Homo sapiens: one gene and its partners. The protein of the gene in region 1 interacts with the protein of each later gene in a biochemical or structural test. Each region holds a gene or a part of one and is shown in the gene's direction. Other genes may lie near its edges.

What was found.
Region 2: the proteins of FRMPD2 (region 1) and MKNK1 interact in a test that uses a peptide from one of them, tested with the Homo sapiens proteins (one large-scale study listed by IntAct).
Region 3: the proteins of FRMPD2 (region 1) and PDZRN4 interact in a test that uses a peptide from one of them, tested with the Homo sapiens proteins (one large-scale study listed by IntAct).
Region 4: the proteins of FRMPD2 (region 1) and SIPA1 interact in a test that uses a peptide from one of them, tested with the Homo sapiens proteins (one large-scale study listed by IntAct).
Region 5: the proteins of FRMPD2 (region 1) and CRB2 interact in a test that uses a peptide from one of them, tested with the Homo sapiens proteins (one large-scale study listed by IntAct).
Region 6: the proteins of FRMPD2 (region 1) and SEMA4F interact in a test that uses a peptide from one of them, tested with the Homo sapiens proteins (one large-scale study listed by IntAct).
Region 7: the proteins of FRMPD2 (region 1) and GYPC interact in a test that uses a peptide from one of them, tested with the Homo sapiens proteins (one large-scale study listed by IntAct).

Annotation. Positions count from the first base shown.
Region 1 is NC_000010.11:48,156,062-48,159,696, reverse strand, and holds the end of FRMPD2 (FERM and PDZ domain-containing protein 2), read left to right. Parts: intron 1-2,326; coding exon 2,327-2,375; 3' UTR 2,376-3,135; downstream 3,136-3,635.
Region 2 is NC_000001.11:46,569,769-46,573,268, reverse strand, and holds part of MKNK1 (MAP kinase-interacting serine/threonine-protein kinase 1), read left to right. Parts: intron 1-1,101; coding exon 1,102-1,206; intron 1,207-1,729; coding exon of another isoform or gene 1,730-1,852; intron 1,853-3,013; exon of another isoform or gene 3,014-3,500. UniProt on the Homo sapiens protein: May play a role in the response to environmental stress and cytokines. Appears to regulate translation by phosphorylating EIF4E, thus increasing the affinity of this protein for the 7-methylguanosine-containing mRNA cap.
Region 3 is NC_000012.12:41,565,820-41,569,319, forward strand, and holds part of PDZRN4 (PDZ domain-containing RING finger protein 4), read left to right. Parts: intron 1-11; exon of another isoform or gene 12-487; intron 488-1,963; coding exon 1,964-2,080; intron 2,081-3,500.
Region 4 is NC_000011.10:65,636,919-65,640,900, forward strand, and holds the start of SIPA1 (signal-induced proliferation-associated protein 1), read left to right. Parts: upstream 1-1,182; 5' UTR 1,183-1,264; exon of another isoform or gene 1,265-3,912; 5' UTR 3,913-3,982. Other genes in the region: PCNX3 (pecanex-like protein 3), read left to right, coding at 1-60. UniProt on the Homo sapiens protein: GTPase activator for the nuclear Ras-related regulatory proteins Rap1 and Rap2 in vitro, converting them to the putatively inactive GDP-bound state. Affects cell cycle progression.
Region 5 is NC_000009.12:123,366,197-123,369,696, forward strand, and holds part of CRB2 (protein crumbs homolog 2 precursor), read left to right. Parts: intron 1-30; coding exon 31-170; intron 171-975; coding exon 976-1,161; intron 1,162-1,376; coding exon 1,377-1,490; intron 1,491-2,582; exon of another isoform or gene 2,583-2,692; coding exon of another isoform or gene 2,693-2,750; intron 2,751-3,500. UniProt on the Homo sapiens protein: Apical polarity protein that plays a central role during the epithelial-to-mesenchymal transition (EMT) at gastrulation, when newly specified mesodermal cells move inside the embryo.
Region 6 is NC_000002.12:74,660,747-74,664,246, forward strand, and holds part of SEMA4F (semaphorin-4F isoform 1 precursor), read left to right. Parts: intron 1-1,985; coding exon 1,986-2,079; intron 2,080-3,500. UniProt on the Homo sapiens protein: Probable cell surface receptor that regulates oligodendroglial precursor cell migration. Might also regulate differentiation of oligodendroglial precursor cells. Has growth cone collapse activity against retinal ganglion-cell axons.
Region 7 is NC_000002.12:126,662,658-126,666,157, forward strand, and holds part of GYPC (glycophorin-C), read left to right. Parts: intron 1-3,500. UniProt on the Homo sapiens protein: This protein is a minor sialoglycoprotein in human erythrocyte membranes. The blood group Gerbich antigens and receptors for Plasmodium falciparum merozoites are most likely located within the extracellular domain.

The DNA of each region.
Region 1 (3,635 bases):
TCATTTATTTAAGAAAGCAAAATAAAGCAGGACTCCTGGAAATGAACCTAAAGTTATGATATACCTTCTGGGGAAGGGCACTGCCTGGAATAGCAAAAGATAATTAGGAGGCCAGAGATCTCACTCAACTGCAGGGGCCAGGCCAGGTGTGATGTCAGAGTAGTTAGGGAGGGATGCAGTTGCCAGGTGAGGGAGATGTCATGCCTGCTCTTGGGTTGGAGTGTGGCTGAGGGGAGTGAGGGAGGCAGCAGAGCCTGGGCTGGATCCTGGGTGCTGCCTCTAGCAGGATTCTCTTTACACCTTACAGGCTCCCAGGGCTATCCTTGGGTATCCCCAGATACCCAGGGGTATCTGTCCACACTACTGTGACAAATCCTAAGTATTGTACTTCAGCTCAGATTTATCATCTGAGCTTCAAATCTGGCAGTCCGTTGAACTTGTTTACTTTGATGTCTTAGAGATACTGTAAATCCAACCTGCCAAAACTAAATGCAGTTGTCAGGAGCAGAGACCTGGGGCTCCCAGCTGTGTCATCAGGGCTAATGGAGACCTCAATATGGGGCCTGATGTTGGAGAACTGGAGACATGAAGGGACACAAACCCCAAACTTTGTTGTGAGTTTAACCGTAAGTAAATAGGACAATTATAATACCTTCATATTTCAAGCCTGAAATGCCCAATCTGCTTCTATGAATTTCCTCCTGAAAGGCAGAGATGAATTTGGTGGCCCAAGTCTTTAAAGGACAGCTGTCCAGAAAAGTTGGGCACAGTGTCTTTTCTCAGTAAACATTCTGTAGCAAGCAGAGCCTTCAGAATGGTTTCACTGACTTCAGAGCTGAACTGGGATTCCTCTTAAAAATACCCACTGAAGAGTTTCAGGACTTGGTGGGGACCCTGGTTCTGGGGTCCTGCTGGTTTGTATGGGAGACATGGCTGGCCAGGAAGCCCACGTGAAATCTCCAGATTCTCCTCTAGTTATCATCTGTCTATAAAAGCCTCCTTCTGTTGGACAGCTTGGTGGGCAGAGAGTGAGGGCAGGAAGAAGCTGAGATCATTACACAGAATCAGGGGGTGAGCAGAGAGCCCCGTGTACTCCGACAGCATCAGGGTCTTGCTGAAAGTCCTGCTACATTAGCCATGAGCTGGCCGGCCTTGAACCCTGGGTGAAGAACTCCACCTCTTTACCCATCATGTCCACATGCAAAACATGAGGCTTGCTGTGAAAGAATGTCTCTATCTTAATGAAATTCTCCAAATTTCCAAGTCTTGCCCTTTCCGTGAAATAGGCATACAGGCTTCTGGTGCCTCTTTATTCCCTATTCACCCTTTCCCTATGTCCACAGTTGAGCCCCAGGTCAAATCTCCAAGGGCAGCCTGATGGCACGTGCAAAAGGATAGAAGGAAAGGCAGTCGTTCTCCCAACTTGTGGTGGGATGATGGCCAAGATTTCACCCTTGGGACCACCAAGTCCCCCTGGACAAGTGGGGAGCAAATCGCTTTTTCTTTGGTTGAACCTCAGATGAAGCCTTGCCTCTTGCCTCTCAGGCTGATGGCTTCCCTAGGTCTCTGTCCAGGCAGAGCCAGTAGCTGGAGCTCCGAATCAAAACCAGAGGGCAAGGAGCTTATTAGAAGAGGTGGAGGGAGTCTACGGGTGGGAGGTGAGGTGTGGACACTGAGGCAGCTGCAGTGGCCAATGGACACACACAGCTGCCATCTTCCACTCCTCAACAAGGCTTAGTGAGCTCAGAACGGAGGGAAGGGGGTGCTGCTTGAGGTGGTGGGGACAGTGGTGAGCCTAGGCCTGGGCAATAGGCTAGATTTCCCATTCTTTGATAAAACTTCTTGAATGTTTCTTTCCCATGTTTATAAGAAAACACAGTTTCTACATGATTTAGCCAAGCTTAAAGTCAATTTTCCCTGCAAATGCTCAAGAATTAAAAATGTCTTTTGACAGTGAGTGTTCCTCTTCAGTCTTTGTAGAATAATTTCTTTTTTATACACTTGAGTGTGCATATATTTACATGAAATTCACTATTTCACATACCTTGTAGCTCTCATGAGTGGAAATAATGTCTCTTTCACAGTGAAGCTCAGTTTGGGACAGATGCTTCCGGCTCTACTGGGGAGGAGGACGTGCTCTCTGGGTATCTAAGGGTTTGTAGCTATTGGGGTGCACCAGAGCCAATTTTAAGAGAAAGAGGCAATGCAGGAAAGGAGAAGGAGAGCAGCAGCACATAATAAAGCCAACCCATTGATTTGGGTGGGGGTAAGGAGGCTGAGAAATGAGGATCCATGTATTTGCTAAATCTTTGTGCTTTTCTCTTAGATATTCCTTCTCATCTCCTCTAACCAGACTTTCGACAGATATTTTCTGAGCACCTTCTCTGCATGTCTGCAGTGCTGTGTAAAATGCCCTACCTTTGCATGGACTATTCTTTCTAATCAAGAGGCGTGTGTGGCGAACTTGGGGCAGCCCCTGGAAGTCTTGTTCTTTGACCATTACGTCTGCGGCTGCATCACCAGATAATGAGCTTCACCACTCGTCTGCCTCCTGTGTCCTTCCGCGGGGAGTAAATGTCACTTCAGCTTGCCGCATCTCTAAATAGGCAAATTTTCAGTGCTCAGAAAAGGACCTGATCTTTGCACAAAGTGCTTTGATGGTTGCCTGCTTGAGTCACTCCCAATCCCTTCCTGAAGCCCTTTCTTTATAATTCTTCTGTTGAAATAGCCATCATATTCACAGTACTAATCACAGCATCTCACATTTACTAAAAACTTACCCCATACCAGGAACCCAGAGTTGGGGGGGCTGTGTCAGAATTATGTAATTTACGTGTCCCAATAATCCTAGACGCTTCTTGACCATCTAGTTTTGTCAAATGAGAAAACTGAGGTTCCAAAGAAGTCAATAAACTTGTCCAAAGTCTGACCGACTCTGCTTGCCATGTGACGAGTCTGTCTTAGAACTGGGTCATTGCCCTGCTTGCAATGCTGTGCCCTCTGGCAAGCCCCCCCATCCCCCCGGTCTCCTGAGCTCGGTAAGGTGCTCCAGCTGCTTCTATCATAGCACTTCCTACATGGACTGTAACATTTCTTTACTGCTCCAACTTCTCATTAAATTGGGGGCTCCTCAAAGCCAGGGTTGGTGCCTTATAAGTTTCTTGCTTCCTGGTGCCCAGAGCAGCCTCTGGCATGAGCTGTTTGAACACTGGCTGAGTCTCACGGGCCTGTGTCGTGCAGAGTATTCTAAAAGGCAAGGGGAAGGTGGGGTGAGGAATTTTTTTTATCAAGGCTGGAAGAAACATGGGCTTCTGTATTCTAGTCCTGAATTGGATGGGGAGGATGGGGAAGGTGACATGTACCATCCATGTGGAGCCCCTTCTCCCACCTCGGAGGATGAAGAGTATCTTACCATCAACTCTACATGCCAAGGCCAGCTACCCTGTGAAGAATGTTTGGAGGCAGATTCTGGGACCATTCCCTTGCCACAGTTCTGCTCTTGGGGCACTGTCCCAGAGTCTTTGCCTCCAGAAGAGTCCCCAGAGAGTGGGAGTGAATGGGAAGACCTGGAGGAGCCTGTGGCCCTGGAATACGGTGCCCTCAGGTGGGTATCACTCTGGCTGGGTGGACTGGGG
Region 2 (3,500 bases), on another chromosome or scaffold:
ATCCCTGCAGCAGTCAGACCACAAGTCCTGCTGGGGGATGTCTGCACAGACTCGGAGGCCTGACTGACGCCCTGGGCCTAAGTCCTGGCCTCACCCCTTACTGGTGCGTAATCTTGGGCAAGTTGCTCAACCATTTTTCTTTTTGGCTTCAGGATCTCCCTCTGTAAAACGAGAATAAGTGTACTACCCATTTTGTCCAATTGTGGTGAGAATAAGACAGTTTATTTCAAGAGTATTCCATAGCACATGGCACTAGTAACTACTCAGTAAATGTTAGCCATTGCCAACAAAACAATAATGAATGGGAAAGCTCAGGCGGAAAACCCATTTTTCCCCCCTTTTCCCAGGCCTTTACATGTCTGGCAAGGGTGTGGCATTTCCATTTGAAAGTTTGTGCTCTTGTTTGGATCAGAGATCAGATGCAGGGGAGAAAACGTTGCTGCAGAAAGGCCCCCTCAGCTCCAAGTGCCTTCAGTTTTATTCCTTTTGATTGCAGAAGCCAAATCAGCCTCAGCATCATTAGTGTTTTTTGGCCCTATTTATAGTTGTTCTCTCTCGCTTCTGAGCTCCTCATAGACAGGTACAGAAGAGAGTAGTCCAGTTTTGTTTAACAGACATACAAGCTGGTACCTCCTCCGTACCAGGCCCCACACTTGGAGCTGGACAGGTAGTGATGAGTCAGCGATGAATCCCTATGTCCCCACCCCAAGTTTTCCAAACTTGGGAAAACTTGGCCTCTAAGAAGTTATACGGCCAGGCGCAGTGGCTCACGCCTGTAATCCCAACAGTTTGGGAGGCTGAGGCAGGCGGATCACTTGGTCGGGAGTTCGAGACCAGCCTGACCAACATGGTGAAACCCCATCTCTACTAAAAAAAAAAAGTACAAAAATTAGCTGGACATGGTGGTGCCTGCCTGTAATCCCAGCTACTCAGGAGGCTGAGACAGGAGAATCGCTTGAACCCGGAGGCGGAGGTTGCAGTGAGCCGAGATCGTGCCACTACTCTCCAGCCTGGGTAACAGAGTGAGACTTCGTCTAAAAAAAAAACTTATACTTACTAGAGCCCAAAAAGGCATTCTTCTATGTCCCCTCTGCTCCCCAGGTTCCATCTTAGCCCACATCCAGAAGCAAAAGCACTTCAATGAGCGAGAAGCCAGCCGAGTGGTGCGGGACGTTGCTGCTGCCCTTGACTTCCTGCATACCAAAGGTGAACCCAGCCTTTGCCTTGGTGGGTGGGTTGGGCTGGCCAGCCTCTGGGTACCAAGGGAGGTGGTAGGCCAGGCAGAGGGCTGGTGCAGGAGATGGTGTGGCTGGAAGGCAGCTTGAGGTGTGAACATGCTCACCCATGGGAGTTGAGGGAGAAACAGTCCAGGATGGCTCCTAGGCTTATGCTGCGGATGGTGGGTGGGTGGTGAAGCTGTTGAGCAGCACAGGGATACAGGAGAAAGAGCAGGGAGGAGAAAGAATAAATTTCACATTGAACAGGGTATGTGTGACTGTGTGTGGATGATGTTTCTTTTCTTAGATTCTTATCGTGTGAGGAATATAAAGCTCATACACAATACAACCTTCTTAGTGTGAATATCTTGATGTTATTCCTTCTAGTCTTAAAATATACATCACCTCTGTCTCTTTTCAAAATTGGCATGATAGGATATATGTAGTTTAATATATCTTGTTCACAGTAAATGAAAAATCTATTTTTCTTTTTCCTTTTTTTTCCTTTTTAGACAAAGTCTCTCTCTGTCACCTAGGCTGGAGTGCTATGGCGCCATCAGGGCTCACTGCAGCCCCAACCTCCCTGGGCTCCAGTGATCCTCCCACCTCAGCCTCCCAAGTAGCTGGGACTACAGGTGTGTGCCACCACCTGGAAATTTTTGTATTTTTTTGTAGAGATGGGGTCTCCCTCTGTTGCCCAGGCTGGTCTCAAACTCCTGGGCTCAAGCGATCCTCCTGCCTCAACCTCCCAAAGTGCTGGGATTACAGGTGTGAGTCACTGTGCCCAGCTTATACTTTTCTATTAACATGTACATTTGAGGTATCTGTTGAAAAGCACATTGGTAACTCACAGGTTACTAGTATTTGATTTACGCTTCAGGTTACAGCCCCTTTCCTATGACTGATTATTCAGGAACTTTTGTAGTGAATTAAATCTTTCCACAAATTGTTTTTACATTTCCATAAATCTGTTTGACTATTACATACTTTTTTTTAAATTTGCCTAACAGCAGTACCCTGGAAAAAATGAATTCTGGTTTCACTTTTCTTCTAGCTATGTGTTCTCTCAGTAATAATGCCTACCCTATGGTGAGAATTTGAGATAATAACATCATCGACTGTAGTTAACACTATATAGCACTTGGTATGTGCTAGGCACTATTCTAAGCTTTTTATAGATGAAAAATGTGTATCTTGTGTTTGTATTGTATATGTGCAGCATAGATGGAGCATAGTTCCTGGTATGTCATAGTTCTTCAATAAATAACGATTTCCTCCATCCTCACCTCCCACCAGGAAGAAAGCATTTTTATTCCTAATATTAATTCCCTTAAAGCATTCTGCCTGTTGGGGGTGGGAGTGAAATGAATAACTTGTGACTTAGGTCTGCCCCCTCTGCTGTTGCGGATGTTGGCCAGCCATGTTGGTTGTGGGTGCCCGGGACCAGTGGTAGGCATGCCACTCACACATCCCACCTGGTGCCCACAATCCGGTGCAGACCAGTGTGGCGCATGTCCAGGAGGTTCAGGTTCATTGACCCCACCTCCCTCCTCCAGTGGCTGAAAGAGGTCTGCATACTGACAGTGCCCATGTTGGGGCCCTGACTTGCACCTAGGATGAAAACTAGAAGGGGGTGTCTGTACCTTCCGCAGCATGATGAATAGCATCAGCTCTGTTTCTGAAAGCTGGGATGCATAGAGGTAACACCTGCCTGACAAAGATTTACAACTGCTCCCCAAGCTGCCTCTGTAGATTGCAAAACTGGGTCACGCTTTTTACAAGATCCACACCTTGGAGGGGGTGGTAAAGGCAGGTTTTATTATTTATTTATTTACAAGAATGCACTGAAGGGAACAGAGGCCGGTGGTGTCTTAGGAGTTCTGAGGCGCTTGTTAACATGTAGCTGGCCAGCTGCCCATGTGACTAGAAGTTGGAGGGGATGAAAAACGATTTCCAGCTGAACTTGGCTGTTTGCTAAATAACTTCACACGGGGAAGATGAATTGGGCAAGAATGGGTCAGCCCTGAAACAAGTTCCATACTTTTAAATACTGGACACACTGCAGCTCAACCTCTGGGAAATGAACCGGAGCAGCTCGATGGCTGCTGTGCTCACACGGCAGCCCCATTATTACAGCCTGGCTCTCTGAGTTCTTAGGCTAAGGGACGACTGGGCCATGGGCGCCTATTTGGAGAGTAAGGCTCCGTGTGTGGCTCGTGATCCTTCTGTGGGAGCACTTGCTGTAATGGAAAATATCTTCCACTTTTAGTGCAGCGAGCTGCA
Region 3 (3,500 bases), on another chromosome or scaffold:
GTAGCCACTACCTTTGAGACAGTGTAGGTTGTTCCTTTTTCTGAGATGCCACATGTGGCCCCCTTTGGTGCAGATAGATCCCCACTCTTAGTAGTAACAATCCCTCTTTTCCTGCAGCTCAGCTCAAGGGAGATGTCTGTCTCTGCCGTTACATTAGACTCAGACCATAGTGAATGTACATCTAGGTAGAAAGGGGGAAATAGGAGAGAAGAAGGAAGTGAGCAAGAAGAATCTCCCTTTGCTAATTGTGCTGTGTGCACCTCCAGCCTAAAAGAAAGCCTTATCAAAATAGACATATAATGACTATGGCTGGCAACTCAGGAATCTACTGGATTACTCAATAAGAAAAGAGTTATGGGGAATCATTAATTTTGACCATTTTCTCTTTATTTTCCCCACTACTTCATTTAATCCTCAAAGGACTCTGTTTCATCATTCAATATATCAGTGTTAGAAAATACTTTATTTTGACCTGATTAAAGAAAAATTCCTTGATGTGTTTGTGAATAGTAAGCACTCCCCATTTTAAGTAATTTTTTATGATGTCTGGCATTTGTAGCTTTATGATACTTGAAAAAGATTAAAGAATGTAAAATTTGAACAATTATAAATTGGGCTGAATTTACATTTTTACTTGGCATAATTTTCATAGCTCATCTGCATATCAAAGTCACAGGAATTTGATCAAATTATTCAGGCGACATTAAGATAAATGAGGATGAACAAATGTGCCAGCACTTTGGGCCCCAGTTAAGTTTGAGGTCATTTAAGTTCTACATGGCCTTTAATAGATATCATGAAATCTATGATTTGCCTGCATATTAATAAAGATGATACCTGTATGCTAATGCCTCTTTTGGTGCAGCTGAATGTCCTTTCCAGTTTGTTTTTAAGTTGTAGAAGTTCAGTTATGTTTAAAAGCTTATTTTGCCAGTTCATTGGTGGTGAAAATATCTCAAACTATTATCCATGTTTGCTCACTAGAATGCTATTTCTTTGTACAGGGTGATGCAGAGTTTTGACGATAATCCAGTTAATTTAATCAGCATAGACAGCTAATTTATGTAATCCAGCTCCAAAAATCCACTTTGAGGCAAATTATCTGTAGTAACTGTCAACACTGATCATATTAGATCATATTAGCCAGGTAACCACCAGTTTTCCACTTCACTTTGTATTGAAAAGCCGAAGGGATTTGTTCAGTTCAATTTGCATTAAGAGTCCTACAAGAATACTTGTTTTCAACACCCATAAACAAAACCCTGCATGCCCCACACCACTCCACCACCCTTAAATGTCGCATCCACTGAGGTGTTTTTCCTATAAAATTGGGCCTGAAAACAAATTAAAATAGACATGGAGTAATATTGCTTTTCTTTCCTTTCCTTGAGAAGAATAACTTAGAATTTTCCTTTCTTCACAGACAAAATAAATGTCTTCTGTACATTCTTTTGTGGCAAGCAGCCATCTTGTTGACATGGGAGCCCACCTAAAAAGAAAAAAGCAGGATGAGGATAGCACGAGCGTATGGGGGGAACTTTGTGTGCAGTCTCGTTGGGGGTTGTTGTTAAAGAAAACAGCCCAATTGTCTCATAGCCCAATTAGTAGCATGGCAGTCCTTTTAACACGGGACTGTTGGAGGTAATGAGCATGACAGCTGTGGATTATGCAGGATGCTTTTCATACATTTTGAAAGAAGGTAATATTCTGTGCTGTGAGATTTACTTGGTTATGAGAGAAAATCTGTAGTCCCATTTCAGGAAAGGATAAAAGGCATAAGAGTCCTTTTTTTTTTTTTTTATCACCTTTTCTTCTTTCTGAGAGGTGAACTGTGGGAGGCTGGTATTCTGAAGAGAATCATTATGATAAAAGGAACTCGTCGGGCACCGGCCATTTAAGTTTACTCTATTTTAACATGAGTTCTCACTAACATAATATAATGTACTAATGTATTCTTTTGCAGCTGGATGAAGGCTGGCTGGAAGATGAAAGGAATGAATTCTTAGAGGAGTTAAACTTGGAGATGTTGGAAGAAGAGCATAATGAAGCAATGCAGCCCACTGCCAATGAGGTGGAGCAGGTAGGGCCAACAATTTGAACTACATCATTTGATATGTTGCTTGTTCTTTTTTTAATGTGTAACCATAAATGAAGATGAAAACAAAATCAAAGGGTTTAATCCATCATCTCTATCATGGTAATTTTTTAGAGCAAATGATCATCTCAAATGAAGCAGAGGGAATAAATAAAATGTTTTTCCATTAAGAATATATCCAGTTTGGGAAGCTTGGGGACAATTGTTAATACAGTACAGTAGTATTCAAATGTTGACCCAGGCACTACTTCAAACTAATTGCAGAAATTTAAGAGTAAAAAATGTGTGTTGCTTATCAATATGCCAGCTGAAAACAAACTGAGGTAGCTTCCCCAATAAGTAATTTTTTTTACTCTAAAATATTAATGTATCTATTTGAATACTTAGGCTATCACTATAGGATGAAGATGACATGATGTAAGCCATCAGTTTTATTTGCGTACTGGATGGCGTGATTACACCTGTATATTCTGAATAATCGTAGAGATTATCCTTGGTCTTATGGCTGCTGTTGACACATTTCCCATAGTATAACTTGTGCAACATTTCTCATAGCATAGTTTGAGATTATTAACATCATTTTGCCTTGAAGTCACATATTCATTCAACTAAACACTTTGAACTCCTAATATGTTCCAAGTACCCCACTTGAAACTGAGAATAAAAAGAAAAATGAGCAGAACTGCTGTCCTTAATGGATTCATAACTAGTAAAAGATCACAGTGTGATTAGTATATTATTTTTATTGTCTTTTTCCCATTTTACAAAAACAAGTTCAATGTATTCTAGATTTTTTATGTTACACTCATGTCATTTATCTGCCTGATATAATTTTGTTTTCAGTTTACTGATTTGTTTAATTATCTTCCTATTCTCAACATTATTATATGTATTTTATTATATATATATATACGGAATCTTGCTCTGTCGCTCAGGCTGGAGTGCAGTGGCACAATCTCAGCTCACTGGAACCTCCGCCTCCCGGGTTCAATTGATTCTCCTGCCTCAGCCTCCTGAGTAGCTGGGATTACAGATGCCCACCACCATGCCCAGCTAATTTTTGTATTTTTAATAGAGACAGGGTTTCACCATGTTGGTCAGACTGGTCTTAAACTCTGACCTCGTGATCCACCTGCCTCGGCCTCCCAAAGTTCTGGGATTACAGGCATGAGCCACCGTGCCCTGTCTATTCTTATTATTATCATTATTATTATTATTATTTTAAGATAGAGTCTCACTCTGTCGCCCAGGCTGGAGTGCAGTGACACAATCTCAGCTCACTGCAACCTCTGCCTCCTGGGCTCAAGCGATTCTCCTGCCTCAGCCTCCTGAGTAGCTGGGACTATAAGTGCACGCCATCATGCTCAGCTAATTTTTGTATTTTTAGTACAGATGAGGTTTCACC
Region 4 (3,982 bases), on another chromosome or scaffold:
GCCCCTATTGAGGAGCGTGAGAGCCCGGCAGCCCAGCCCCTGCTGGAACACCAGTACTGAGCTACCTGGCGCCCACTGGACCACCTCCTAGGATTCAGTAACGGACCTGCTCTGCTGCCTCTCTGCTGGACCACAGAACTGAGTGGCTTTGGCCTACATGTCTGAACCCTGACCTTTGGCTGCCTTGGCCAGAGTACCAAAACTGAGTGACCCAGACCTCTGACCTTGACCCCTGATCTCTCTCATCCCCAGTCCAGGGCCTGGGCTCCCCAGATGGAGGCAGTCAGCCTCCCAGCCAGGCCCTAAGAGCCAAACCATGGGCTGGTCCCACTTGGAGCCTGTGGCCAGGACCACCTCAGCCCCTGGGCCTGCACTGCCTGCAGGTGTGGCCCCCTTGGCCTGGACCTGGGGCCTGAATTGTGGGAAGGGTGGTTTCTTTCTTTCCTTTTTTTTCTTTTCTTTTTTTTTTTTTTTTTTGTGCTTCGGAGACATCAGAATTAATAACACTATTTTTGATTTTGGTTGGCAGTTTCTTTTTCTACCTGGGAATGGGTACATGATAGTACAGGCGGCTAAGTTGGGATGGACAAGCACGCAGAGGGGTGAAGGATGTGGGGCTGAAGTCTAGTAGAGATCAAGGGCAGACCAAGGTGGGGTTCAGGTAGAACCGGGTCCTCTTCACCGCATGGCTGCTCCCTTTTCAAGCCTTTATCTGAAGGGTATTGTCTGCCATTTCCCACCATATGGTCAGACTTCCAGGTCTGGTGGCTCCTACATTTATCAGGCTTGTTCTTGGCCAAAGCCTTTCTCTGCACCTCAGCTGCTCCAGGGCGTAAAGAGATGACACCTATCTAAGGTGTTTTTAGAATAAATGAGAGCGCGCTAGTGGAATGGTTGCCCAGGGCCCAGTGCTTAGCAAGTGCTCCATAAAATAGTGGCAGACTCTTGAGCACCTGCTGGCCGGGAGCTGGACGCTAGGTGGCCTCCGCTAGCCCTCCCGGTTGGTCTGGAAGGCAGGCACAAGTTTCTCAGGAGAGGAAATGGCCTTAGAATGAGCACTGCTCGGTGCTGACCTCCGCCAGGCCTGGAATCCCCGCTGCTGCGCTTCCCGCCGCAGACAGCTCCCGGCCGGCCCCGCCTCCCGGCATGGCCCCGCCTCCCAGCATGGCCCCGCCCCCAGGCGGAGCCGGCGCCGGGAGCGGTAGCGGGAGAGCGGCAGCGGGACCCCAGCGCGGGCGGCGGCGGCTGGGCGGGAGCCCCAGAGGTACTGGCGGGAGCAGGGGACGGGAGGCACTACTGTCGGGCCCGACAGGGGAGAGGTGGCCTAGCCGTGGGCCCGGGTGATGTGTATGGGAGTGGGGTCCTCGCCACGTTCGCCGCCAGCACCCTCCCAACTTCCCTCCGGGCTCCAGCTCAGTCCCGAGTCAATATGTCCAGCCCCCTGTCTCTGACCAGCCGTTCCTACTCTCTCTGTGTGACGGCTTAGCCTGGCCAGCCAGCCGGTGAGTGGAAGCGGCGGCTCCTGACTCCTGGTGGCGGCACTGTGACCCCCTCCCCCTCAACACTGCAAGTGTGTGCGGGGCTCCCCCTTATTCTGAGGCTCCTCTTCTTCTTAGGCGGCCTCCACCCCAGTCCCTGGCCTGGCCTGGGAGGAAACATCTGTCGCGCCCCCTGGCAGCCGAAATGGGGTCATGACCTCCAGATGTGCTGGGAAGTGGCCAGCTCCTCCTCCTGGGGCAGCCAGGCCTTCCGGATCTGTGGGGGCGGGGCCGGCCCTTTCCCCCCACCCCTAGTGACACAGGCCCGGAGGAATGTCCTAGCCTCAATGGACCCTGTGTGAAGCTTCAGGGTGGGGGGCAGAGCCCGAGAACACCCCTCAAGGCAGCGCCAGAGCCTGGCACTGGGCCACAGCAAGAGGCAGCGCACAGGCTGGGTGCACACATGCACAGATCTCACTTCCAAGCGTGCAGAGCTCAGCCCACAAGGAGCGGGGCTTGCACAGACCCCCTCCCTCATGCCCTCCTACTCCTTCACACACTATAGCCCAGGCCCGAGCGCTGAATGTGCCCAGAGCTTGGCTCATGGAGCCAGGGGCTACACCCGTCACACACACACATAGCTAGCGACACTCACCTCATTCTTCTCAGTCTCTCAGCAGCCTTGGGAGGGGACAGAAATAATTAAACCCAATTTTTTTCTTTGTTTTTTTGGAGACAGTCTCACTCTGTCCCGCAGGCTGGAGTTCAGTGGCGCGATCTCGGCTCACTGCAACCTCTGCCTCCCAGGTTTAAGCGATTCTCCTGCCTCAGCCTCCTGAGTGGCTGGGACTACAGGTGCGCACCACCACACCCGGCTAATTTTTATGTTTTTAGTAGAGACAGGGTTTCACCATGTTAGCTAGGCTGGTCTTGAACTCCTGACCTCAGGTGATCCCCCCGCCTTGGCCTCCCAAAGTGCTGGGATTACAGGCCACAGCCACCGCACCCGGCCAGTTAACCCCATTTTAGAGATGAGAAAACAGAGGCTCAAGGTCAGCATGGGAGTTTATTCAGGAGAAATCAAGGTAGAAGCACCTGGGCTGGGGAGCCGACTCTTGCTTGGTTCTGGAGGCCCCAGACGAAGGGTGTGTGGAGCCCCTCCTCCACCCCCCTCCGGCCCAGCCCCGCATGATGTTGCTGGATGCTGCATGAAGACCCACCATTAGATGCCTGTACCCCCAGTGGAGGTTCCCCAGCTCCCTGTCCTCACTGCCTACTCCATCCAGGGCTTGCCTGGGTGTGGCTTCCCTCAAGTTCTCACACCACCATTTGCACCTGCCTCTGGCGTCACGTTTCCGCACTTAGCAGGTCCCTGGGGCTTTGGGTGTCTCAATCTTGCATCCTGTGAGACCTTGAACCTCAGCCCAACACCCACCCCCCAAAACCTACGCACACAGACAGCAGTGGGCAGGTGCAGCCCTGCTTAGGGCCTGGAGATGGGCAGACCCAGGCTCACATCCTAGCTCTGACACGGAATTGCTTCAGGCAAGAGCATCTCCTCTGGACCTCATCTGACCATCTGTCACATGGGGTTCAGACCTCCCTGTCTGCATCAGTGAGACCAGGTAGGCAGAGGTCCCTATGGGTCCCTGTCATTGTGACTCCTCTTGCCCCCAAGCCTGGGCACAGTAGCCTGCAAGAAGGTGAGTTGGCCTGTCCTTCAGGGCAGGGTGACTGGGGTCCCATGACAGCTGCTGTGACCCCAGCACCTTCCTCAGGATGTGGGGGCCTGGCAGAGGGCTGGGCCCACAGTTGGGGCTACTTCCTGTGCTGAAGGAAGTCCTCTTGCCATTCCTGCTGCCCTGCCGCTGCCTCCCTGGGAACCCATGTGTCCTTGTGGTATTGAGGCCTTGAGGTCCAGGGCACTGAGATCAGACCTCTCTGGGTGATCAGCTCTCCAGGGACCCTGAAGGAAGTGGGAGGGGCAAGGAGGAAGGTCTCTGGGGACAGGACGTCCTCCCTTTGTTAAGTGGGCAGGACCCAGACACCAGTGGCCCCTGGGTTTCCCGTCCCAGCCAATACAAGTCATCTGTCCGGTTGGGCTAGGTCCTGGTGGGACCCTTACTCTGGGCCCAGGCCAAAGCTAAGGTGTGTGGGTGGCGACTGGGGGACCCTGGCAGTCCCAGGGCTGCCCAGGCTCCAGGACCCTCAGGACCAAGACCCAACAGCCCAGCCTCTAGCCTTGCCCAGCTAAGCTGGGGAGGGGGCTGGAAACTTTAGCCCTAGGCAGACAAGGAAGTGGCCTGGAAAGCGGAAGCAGCTTTGATGGTCTCGGAGGGGGCCGGAAGCCAACACGGGTGGTGGAGGACCAGGCTGGGGGCCTGGGTTCCTGTTTTCTGCCCAGGCCCCTCTGAGCAGCCCCCTCCTCCTTCAGGGCAGGAACTGCTGCCACAACCTCAGGCTGGGCACCAAACACCCGTGCCCGCCAATGCGGCCCAGCCCCC
Region 5 (3,500 bases), on another chromosome or scaffold:
CGCTCAGCTCCGCCGGTGCGCCCTCCCCAGGTTCCGGTGCGACTGCGCGGGCACCGGCTACGAGGGCACGCACTGCGAGCGGGAGGTGCTGGAGTGCGCATCGGCGCCCTGCGAGCACAACGCGTCCTGCCTCGAGGGCCTCGGGAGCTTCCGCTGCCTCTGTTGGCCAGGTGTGTGCGTGCAGGTGCGCGGCCTGGCGGGGGGAGGGGTAGGTGTGCGCCTGTGCGGCCTGGGGCGGTGGGGCAGGTGTGTGGCTGCACGCGAGTGCCCGCTGGGTCCTCGGGACCAGAGTGTGTGTGTGATTGCAACCTGTCGGAGCCTCAGTTTCCTGATCTACAAAATAGGGCTGATCGTAGCGCCTGCTCCTGGGGTTGCTGCGGGGAGCTCGAAGGTGCGACGCCTGGGAAGCCCTTGGGGAGGGCCTGACAGCTGCAAAGGGCTCAGTAATTAATGCTAGTAATAGTAGTAAGACTAGGCCGGGCGCGGTGGCTCAAGCCTGTAATCCCAGCACTTTGGGAGGCTGAGGCGGGCGGATCACGAGGTCAGGAGTTCAAGACCAGCCTGGCCAACATTGTGAAACCCCATCTCTACTAAAAATACAAAAATTAGCCAAGCATGGTGGCATGTACCTGTAGTCCTAGCTACTCAGGAAGCTGAGGCAGGAGAATCGCTTGAACCTGGGAGGTGGAGGTGAGCAGAGATCATGCCGCTGCACTCCAGCCTGGGCAACAGAGTGAGATTCTATCTCAAAAAAAAAAAAAAAAAATTAGTAGTAAGACTAGTAATAGCAGTAATAGGCCACTGCTGCTGAAGGCTGCCGTGGTCATTCCTGCGGCCCTTAGTGTGTCCCTCCCTCGCCATTCGTGGCTTATTCCGAGCTGCGGTCCCTTGCTGGCCCTCGCTAGCCTGGTCATAGTGAAGAGGTGCTGCCCGGCAACCCCGTGAGACCTGATGTCCGCGTGTGTGTGCCCCCAGGCTACAGCGGCGAGCTGTGCGAGGTGGACGAGGACGAGTGTGCATCGAGCCCCTGCCAGCATGGGGGCCGATGCCTGCAGCGCTCTGACCCGGCCCTCTACGGGGGTGTCCAGGCCGCCTTCCCTGGCGCCTTCAGCTTCCGCCATGCTGCGGGTTTCCTGTGCCACTGCCCTCCTGGCTTTGAGGGTGAGCCCCTGCTGGGGAAGCGGTCAGCCCATGTCCAGATGCCCAGGGAGGGATCTTGTGCCCACCCCCCCACCCCCCCCACCCCCCCACCCCACACCCCACACCCGAGTCTGCCCTCTCTCTTGGACTCAGTCTCTCTAGCTATAGAATGGACCCTCTCAGCCCCTGCCTGGCTCTGAGGGTGCAGGTGGGACCCACAGCTGGGCCTCTTACAGGAGCCGACTGCGGTGTGGAGGTGGACGAGTGTGCCTCACGGCCATGCCTCAACGGAGGCCACTGCCAGGACCTGCCCAATGGCTTCCAGTGTCACTGCCCAGATGGCTACGCAGGTGTCTGGGGTGGGGTGGGCCCTGGGACCATCAGAATTGGTGGTCCTCAGGTGAGAAGGTCCCTTCTGTCTGGATGTGTGGATTGATGGGGTCAAGGAGATCAGGGAGGAGGTGGGTATGGTGGCCCAGGTGACCGCTGAGGGTGGCTGAACTGGGACTCGCTTTGGAGGTGAGACTGGGGCTCAGGAGTGTAGTCCTGGCAGCTGGGGCCATAGTGGGCTGAGGTTGTCTGGGAGAACGTGTGGAGGGATGGTCTTCAGGGAAGACGGAGGTGGTTCAGCCAGGACAGAGAAGGAAAGGGGGGCTATTGCAGAGAGTTAGGGGGCAGCATCTGTAGAAGGATGACTCTGACCTTTGGGGAGCTGGGGCCTGTCAGGCAGGAGTTGGGGGTTCAGAAGTCTGCCCCTGCCTTGGGTACACGCAGATGCACAGACACAGGACCCCGGTGAGCCCAGGGAGCTCCACCGCCAACACTGAACGTCCCTGCCCCCTCTGGAATGCCTGCGACACCTCCCTCACACCCGCCCGCATTCCTGCTGGGGCACACTGCCTCCTCCCCCTGGCAGGCTCCTGGGCACAGGCTCCTCCACCAGGGGAAAGAGATGGTGGTCACCTCTTCCCCTCTCTCACTCGCCTGAAGATGGTGGGACTCAGTGTCCCCCAGCCCTGGATGGCTGACACTCCTGGGGGTCCCGAAGGCCCATCCACTGCCTCCATGGGCCGAGGTTCCCCAAGTCCTGCTCCAAGAGCCATGGCCTCCTGGGTACCTGGCACACAGTGGGCCCACACAGCACGTCTGGCCTCTGGGAAGCATTTGCTCTGCATTTTGTTTTTTCCTTGCCACAGCCCCATGAGGCAGGGGTTTAAAACCCCATCTTACAGCTGAGAGGATGAGGGGGTGTCATCCCCCAGGTTCACCACTATCAGCGGGAACCCGGCTCCTCTCCCAGTTGAGCTCACTGTTGGGTGACAGGGAGGGCAGACCTCTGAGGTCAGAGCCAGGGAGGGGGGACCCCAGCTGCAGGGCTGGGCTCTTTGCCCATCCTCCCTCCCTTTAGGCCATGCTGGGCATGGGGGAGGCCAGTGCCTGGCATTCCTGAGCAGGCTCCGAAGGAGGCAGCTGGGCCAGGCAGGGAGCTCTGCCTCCTCCCCACTTCCCCAGCCTCAGTGCCCGCCCACCACTCTCAACCTGTCTGGAGGGCATGGCAATGGAGCCGGGGGCTCTGTGGACCTTCCTGGGCCACCTGTGGCTCCTGGCAGGTATGGAGGAATGTGGGCCCTGGGCAGGGGGAGGTTGGTGGGTGGTGGTTCCTAGGAAGAGGCTGTGGTGTTTGTGAGCTGATCGAGGCTGGGCTTCAAACCCTGGTGACTTCTCTGGGCCTGGGTTCCTCCAGCTGGGATGTGGCTCTGGCTGAGCTACAGTGGGCTATGGCTTCTGGACCCAAGCTGGGGCCTGAGCACCTGAAGGGATCCCTAGAGGGAGGATGAGGCAGCCCCTTCACAGCCAGTGTGGGGGCCCTGGGGCAGAGGGACTGAGGGGTTAGAGCCTGGGAGGCCACTCAGAGTGCCTTGGGTACTTGCACTACCCCACTAGCTCCTCCATGCCATCACTCTGTCCATAAAAGCCATGTCAGGCCCTTTGCTGGGCACCAAGGACATATTCAGGTCCCTGAAGATCTCAGCTGAGTAAACAAATACTTTTAATACAGGGTTCTGGGGAGCTGTGCCTGGGACTGCAGAGTGACACAGTAGTTTGAGGTTGGGAGTTAGGGAAAGCCTCTGGGCCCTTTGAGTTTGGGCTTTGCAGGATGAGTAGGAGTTTGAAAGGAAGGGTAAGGGTGAATGAGGCATTCCAAGCAGACAGAACAGTATGAGCAAAGCCCCAGAGTCACGACTTTCCAGGAAATGCTCGGAGGAATGGGACGTTCAAGATTTGTGGGAAGCAGGATTGAGGCTTGAGAGCCTGGTAGGACCCAGCCCATGAGGGTGTCTTAAATGTCAGGGTGAGTG
Region 6 (3,500 bases), on another chromosome or scaffold:
GATGATGCTGCTGGGGAAAACTGAAAAAGAACTAGTTTCAACATATTGAGTTTTAAGGGGCAGATAGGAAATCTCTGTGAGGAAGTCCAGCAGTCAAATAAAAATATGGGCTAGAGTTTAGAAGATATCAGATTTGGAGAGTTTGGGGAATGATTTGCATAGAATATCTGGCTGGAAAGAATGAATGAGATCTTTGAAGCATATGTGAAAGCTACTAAAGGTGGATTCTTAGGATACACATGTGGGAGCTAGAAAGAAGAAGAAGGAAATGGAGAAATAACAGATAGGAGGGATTCCAGAAGGGCAGAGTTTCAGGAGAGTCAAGGAATAGAATATTTCAAGGAAGGGAGTGAGTCAAAAGTATCAAATGGTGCATAAGGGTTAAAGAGAATGAGAACTGAGAAAAAGTTCATCCCTTTAGTCCTTGGAGAAATGTAAGGCAGTAGTTATAGGCATAGAAAACATTATTTGTCTTCCAGGAATAACAGGTGATCTGGTTTGGATAGAACAAAGGTCATTTTGAAAAGTAGTTGAAAATAAGTAGGTTTGGCTGATGAGGTTGTACTCCAGGCAATGGTGGACTATTTTCTCATTCTCTTGCACAAAAAGTTATTATTAAGTCAGTGACCAATACTTCAGATTAATCTTGGGTGGGTATTAGAATAACTTGGTTGGTGGGGGTGGCTAGATGATGTGGAGAAAGGAGTTTACTGCCATGGTTTAGGTGAGAGGTAAGAAGGGAAGCAGCAGCAGGTAAGTACCACATCTCTAGAGTGCCCAACCATCTTGTTAATCTCTCACCAAACCCATCTTTCTTCTCAGGTGAGGATGCTCCCACTGTCACACAGCTGGAGTGCTGTGCCTCTGTGGAGTCCTCCATTCCAGCAGACTCTTCTGACCCAGCATTCCGTTTTTGGGGACTTCAAAAGTTTTAACAGGCCTTCTTCCAGACTCTCAGTAAAATAGAATCTTGTTTGCCATCTAGAACAAGAGATGAGTAATCGGAGTGGGCCAGTAGTACACTTATTTTTCAGGGGATATATATCGATATTTCTGCAACAGCTACCATGGAAGTAATTAGGCTCCAATGACACCATATGCCCACGCCAGTTTGTGAACTAAAGATATCATCCCTGGCATTTCCGTGCCATAACTTTGACTCTCAACCAGCCACTGTTAACTTCCCTCTCAGTCCTAGGTTGAAATCATCCTTGTTTTTAGATGTTATCTTGAAGCCTCTCTTAGTGCCAAATGCTAGACTAAGGTAACTTCTGGCTGGCCCTGATGAAGCTCTTACACCTCTTGTTCCTTGCCCATGTCAGTCCCTCTGGAGTCCCTGGGTGAGGAAGGTACTTACTACCAAACTCTCACATTCTGACCTGAGCTTCAGGTCATTCTTTACTGACTTTGCTGGTTCCCCTGTCCTCTGCCCTTGGTCGTATGATGCAGCTCTGTCTTTCATCCTTGGGGTGGGGAATAGGAGGAGGATGGCCCTTGTCTCTCTAGGCCTCTGGGTTTCAGATGGTCCTTTATCAGCCTGCACTTTTCTTTGTCCTTTCTAAGGTTTCCAGTCCTCAGGAGGCCTGCTTTCTTCCTGATCCTTCTTGTCATGTAGCATATTCTCCAGCCAGTTACAAACCCTACAGTTCAGCAGTGTTTCAGAGGAAAGACCTACCTTCAGCCTCTTAGGTGCTTCTTGGGCTGTCCTAGGAATTTCTTCATCAGGGCATGTGGGTGTTGGCTGCTGGGGGAATTGAGGGAAGAGGAATAAACTGATGAACAAAGGATAGCAGAGATGAGAAATGCAGGAGTAGATGGGGGCATCAGGAATAGCTGACTGGTAATATGGGGATGATAGTTGGGGGTAGGGAGTGGAAGGGGAGAGGAATGGGAATTGACCTTTTCCTTCATCTGACCATCTTTGTAATTCTCACCATGAACCTTCCCTATGACCCCTAAACCAATTGCCCCCTTCTGGTCTATAGGATGTGTCCAGGTTCCAGCAGGTTGAAAGACTTGAGAGTGGCCGGGGGAAATGTCCTTTTGAGCCAGCTCAGCGGTCAGCAGCTGTAATGGCTGGTGAGTGGGGAGAGACAAGAACCTGTAACTTCTTGCTAATTGCCTCCTTCCCCACCCTTGCTGTTAGAATTTCTGTGTTCTTTCTTACCTTGGAATGTCTATTATTCTCATGTCTCTTTTTAGCCTTTCCTGTTCTTCCCTGAGTGCCTGTGTAACCACCTGCTTTTCCCCACCTAGTATGATATCCCCAGGATTCTCTCCACAGAATGTGTCCTCTGCACCTCTAGTGTAATGTTTCCTCTCTTAACCTCATTTTCTTTTCTCATAGTGTTTTTATTCCTGTTAATAAGTGGAATATACTACAATGCATATTGTAATAAATTTGGAAAAAGTATAAAGAAGAACATGAAGAAAACTTCTAGAACAGCACTTTCCAAAAGAACTTTATGTAATGATGGAAATGTTCTACATCTGCACTGTCCAATACAGTAGCCACTAGCTATTGTGGCTATAGAGCCCTTGAAATGTGACTAGTGTGACTGAAGGAAGGAATTTTAAATAGTATTTAATTTTACGTAAATAGGCCTGTGTGTCTAGTGGTACCGTATTAGTGTAATTCTAAAATATCTCTACTTAGAAAATTATTGCTAATATTTTAGGATATTTCCTAATACCCTGTATTCGTCCATTTGTGTTGCTATAAAGAAATACCTGAGACAGGGTAATTTATAAAGAAAAGAAGTTTATTTGGCTCATGGTTCTGGATGCTGGACATGAAGCATAGTGCTAGTATCTCCCTCTGGTGAGGTCCTTAGGAAGCGTACAGTCATGGCAGAGGGTGAAGGGGAGCCAGTGTGTCACATAGTGAGAGAGGGGGCAAGAGAGAGAGGGAGGAGGTGCTTTTTTAAACAGATCTTTTGTGAACTCAGAGTGAGAGCTCACTCATTACTGCCAGGACAGCACCAAGCCATTCATGAAACATCTGCCTGCATGACCCAAACACCTCACACTAGGTCCACCTCCAACATTGGAGGTCACATATCAATGTGAGTTTTAGAGGGGACAAAACATCCAAGCCATATCATATCCTAAATGGATATTAATGTGTGTGCACACCCATGTACATTCATGCACATACATTTGCTGCCAGTCCTTTGTTGCTCAGGGGAGTCAGTAATGACTATTAAATAAATTCCTGCTAGTACTTCTTTTGAACAAGCTGCCTGTGATTCCTCAAGTGTGAAATGATTCTATCACAAACCTAAACCTCTTCTGGAGAATGACTGTCTAATTTATTAGCAGCCACACAGCAAATTTTTTTTGTGCCACATAGCCTGAATTTTAGGTCAGACCACCCAACATGCACCTTCCAAATTCAGTGAAAAGCCATTTTCTTGTGGTAGTGTAAAGCAGGTTAATGGAAATTTTATGAGCATGTGCACAGTATAAAACTTTTAAATGTCATGCTACATGGATGTAAT
Region 7 (3,500 bases), on another chromosome or scaffold:
CATGTTTTTATTTTGCACTGGGCTCTGCAAATTCTACGGCTAGTCCTGAACCTGTCAATGGAGCTAATAACAGTCTCTACCTCAGGGCTTTGTTCGGAGGATTCAGTGCATTCTCACAGATAAACATCCTAGTGTAGTGCCTGGTATGTGCTCATAATTGTGCTTAATTGCTTCCGCTCACTGAGTGTGTGCGTGTGTGCTTAAACGCCAGCTTCCTCCCCACTGCCCTGCTCCCTCCTTGCTCTCCAGACTCCTCAGATGTTTGCCCCTTTGCCACTGAAAGTCATACCCAATGACAGGGGGCCATCTGCATCTGTGTGGTCCCACAGAGACCAGGGAAAGGCCCTCTCGCTCCCGATGCTGCTCCTTCATGGTTTTTATTGTTTTTGTTTTTCTTTTGAGATGGAATCTTGTTCTGTCCCCAGGCTGGAGTGCAGTGACATGATCTTGGCTCACTGCAACCTCCGACTCCCTGGTTCAAGCAATTCTCCTGCCTCAGCCTCCCGAGTTGCTGGGATTACAGACATGTGCCACCACGCCCAGCTAATTTTTGTATTTTTAGTAGAGATGTGGTTTCACCTTGTTGGCCAGGATTGTCTCAATCTCCTGACCTCCTGATCTGCCCACCTTGGCCTCCCAAAGTGCTGGGATTATAGGCATGAGCCACCACGCCCAGCCTCCTTCATGTTTTTATCCAAGAGTCAGCACTGCGGTGGAGACAGCCCAGAAAACACACGCAGGCCCTGCTCTTGGCCACGCACGCCAGCTGTGTGATGGGGAGCAAGCCTCTTACCTTCCGGAGCTCCATTTCCTCACATCACCCTGGAGAGAGGTCATCTTTGCCCCCACCTCATCGGGGCACCAGCCCCTCAACCACTCATACCTGGGCCATCTGGTTCTCCATGGAGAAGAGTAGGCTCTTTGAAAGCACCGTATGAGTGAAGGAATGAGTGAATGAGTCAGCAAACGGATGGAGGGATGTGAAGGTCCATCCATGTAGGCAAACAAGGTCTGCAAAGAGTGCCCTGGGCCCCAGCATTCACTGCACCCTCTCCCTGCCCTGGGCAAGGCCCTGACCCTGGTGCACTCTAAGCTCCTCTCAGCTCAGCCCCTGACCTCTCCCCTGTCTGCCAGTGCCCCTCCCCTGAGTGTGAAGCCGGGGGCCTCCTTCCCTCGGCTCACCTGGCCCTCATGCGCTCTACCTTTCAATGTCTTCTTTAGGCAGTCATTTCTCCTTTTTCCTTCATGCTCCCCTTTGAATGGGCTTGGAGCTGGGTCTCTCTAAGGTTCTGGTCTCTCTCTCTCTCTCTCTCTCTCTCTCTCTCTCTCTCTCTCTCTCTCTCTGGAGAAAGCTCCTTCTCAGCCTTTTCCAGCTTTTCCAGGTCCCAAACTCCTGGGAGGGGAGCCAGGCCTTGCTTGATCATGCCCTGGATGGATTTGTCATATTAATCCCTTTCCTTCAACTTCGGCAAAACTTCTCATTTTAGCGAAATTAATTTCAGTTATGGTTGAAAATCCTGAGTATTCCCTTTTTAAAAAATTTTCATAGTCTTTTTTTTTTCTTTGTCACTGATTCTTTACACTATCCTGAGCCATCCTCCTCATCTGGTGACAGTAGCCCTGTCTCAGAGAGTAGAGATGAGGCTCCACTCCACAGACGCCATCTCATTTAGCCCTCTGGCAGCCCCAGGGAGGTATTTTTATCTCCATTTTGCATGTGATGATACCGAAACTAGCAAGTGGATGTGACTTCCAGAGAACCTACCAGCCCCTCACACCTCCTTCTCTTCCCCCTCTACATTGAAAGCTCAGCCAGGGCCTGACCCCAGACGCAGTGCTCAGAGACCACAGTGCTTCTAGAGGCCCACAACAGTATTAGAGCTTCTTTTAAAATCAGAAGGAAGGAAATGAACCTCTAAGATCAAATAGTACATTTGCCTTTATACCAGTGCAGCTATACAATATGATTTCTAATATTTGGGAGGAGAAGGGACCCATAAGGTAAAGCACCTTGGCCCATGGAAGTCACCCTGTGACCTGAGCTCAGCCCATTGGAGGTTGAGGGGCTGAAGCCCACTGCCTCTGCTCTCCCTGCCTGAATCTGCCCCTTGCTCCCAGGGCTCTGATCCTCCTCTACGTTGGCAGTCCTGGTTCCTTAGCAGTTCTGTCTGTCACGGGAGGACTCCCTGGGCTGGGCATCTGCAGGGGCAGCCTCTACCTCTCCCTGTGGGACTTCACTAACACAGCTGGAGTAGATGCTAGGGAGGCTCAGGTCATGCACTACTTGCTGTCTTTCTCTCTCTCTCTCTCTCTCTCTCTCTGTGTCTCTCTCATTTTCTGTCTCTATCTTTCTCTTACTCTTTTGGCCTTTTAAGTCAGAAGAATAGGCTACTCTTCACTTACAAGTTTAAAAATAAGTTGTCTTTGCCCTATTTCATTATTGCAGAAGCAATTCATGTTCATTGTAGAATTGTAGGAACAAGATCAAGAGGAAGGATGTAGGAAGAATCTCTATGGGGAAGAGGGTGACTTTGAGATACAATCTCTTGCCCTGATCTGAGCTTTCAGTTACCTAAGGTACAGTACAGTAAGATACTGAGAGAGAGAGAGAGACTAGTTCATATAACTTTTATAGAGTACGTTGTTACAATTGTTTTACTTCATTATTCATTGTTGTTAATATCTTACTGTGTCTAATTTATAAAATAAACTTTATCATAGTTATTCGCATATAGGAAAACTATCATGTATGTAAGGTTCAGTCGTATCTCTGGTTTCAGGCATCCGCTGGGGGTCTTGGAAAGCATCCCCCATAGGTAAGGGGGAACCACCGATTCATGGGACAGATAGATGATCACCCAGTGGCAGCTCGAAGGGAGATTAGGGCACAGATAAGGCTGGAGGACATCAGTGTAAAGAGGCCACCCTGTGAGGGGCCCAGAAGGGAGCCCTGGAGACCCTCTGGGTGCATTGATCACCTCAGATGGGGGCCCAAGGGATGCCGACGCAGGGCAAAGCACTACAGCAGACTCGGCACAGGTGCCTGGGGCTGTGCACGCCCTGGCAAGCGCCCACTCTGCCCTGCTCCGCACCTAGTGAGGACGTGTAACACACACAGTGCCTCCTTTAATGCTGAAGGCATCACACAGATGCAGATATTATTAATTCCAGTTTAGGAAGACAAAAAGTGAGGCTCAAAGAGGTGATTTCCCCAGTGCTTCCCTGTGCATCACTGACACGCTCTCTCCTGGAAGCCAGGTGTGTCTTCCTCCAGCTCTGGGACTCTGCAGCCTGCCCTGCTGGGAGGGGGCTGCCCATGACCCCTTGCCCTTCTGCTCAGATCGTTACAGCCCTGAGGTCGCTCTCCTGGCCTCTGAAGAAAAGGCCTTTCTTTGTTCCCCCCACACCCGGAACCACTTGTGTTCCCTCTGCCGTCCTCCGCAGGCACCCACCTGTGTCCCAGCAGCTGCGAATGCAGTGCTCAGAGTGGTACACAAGGG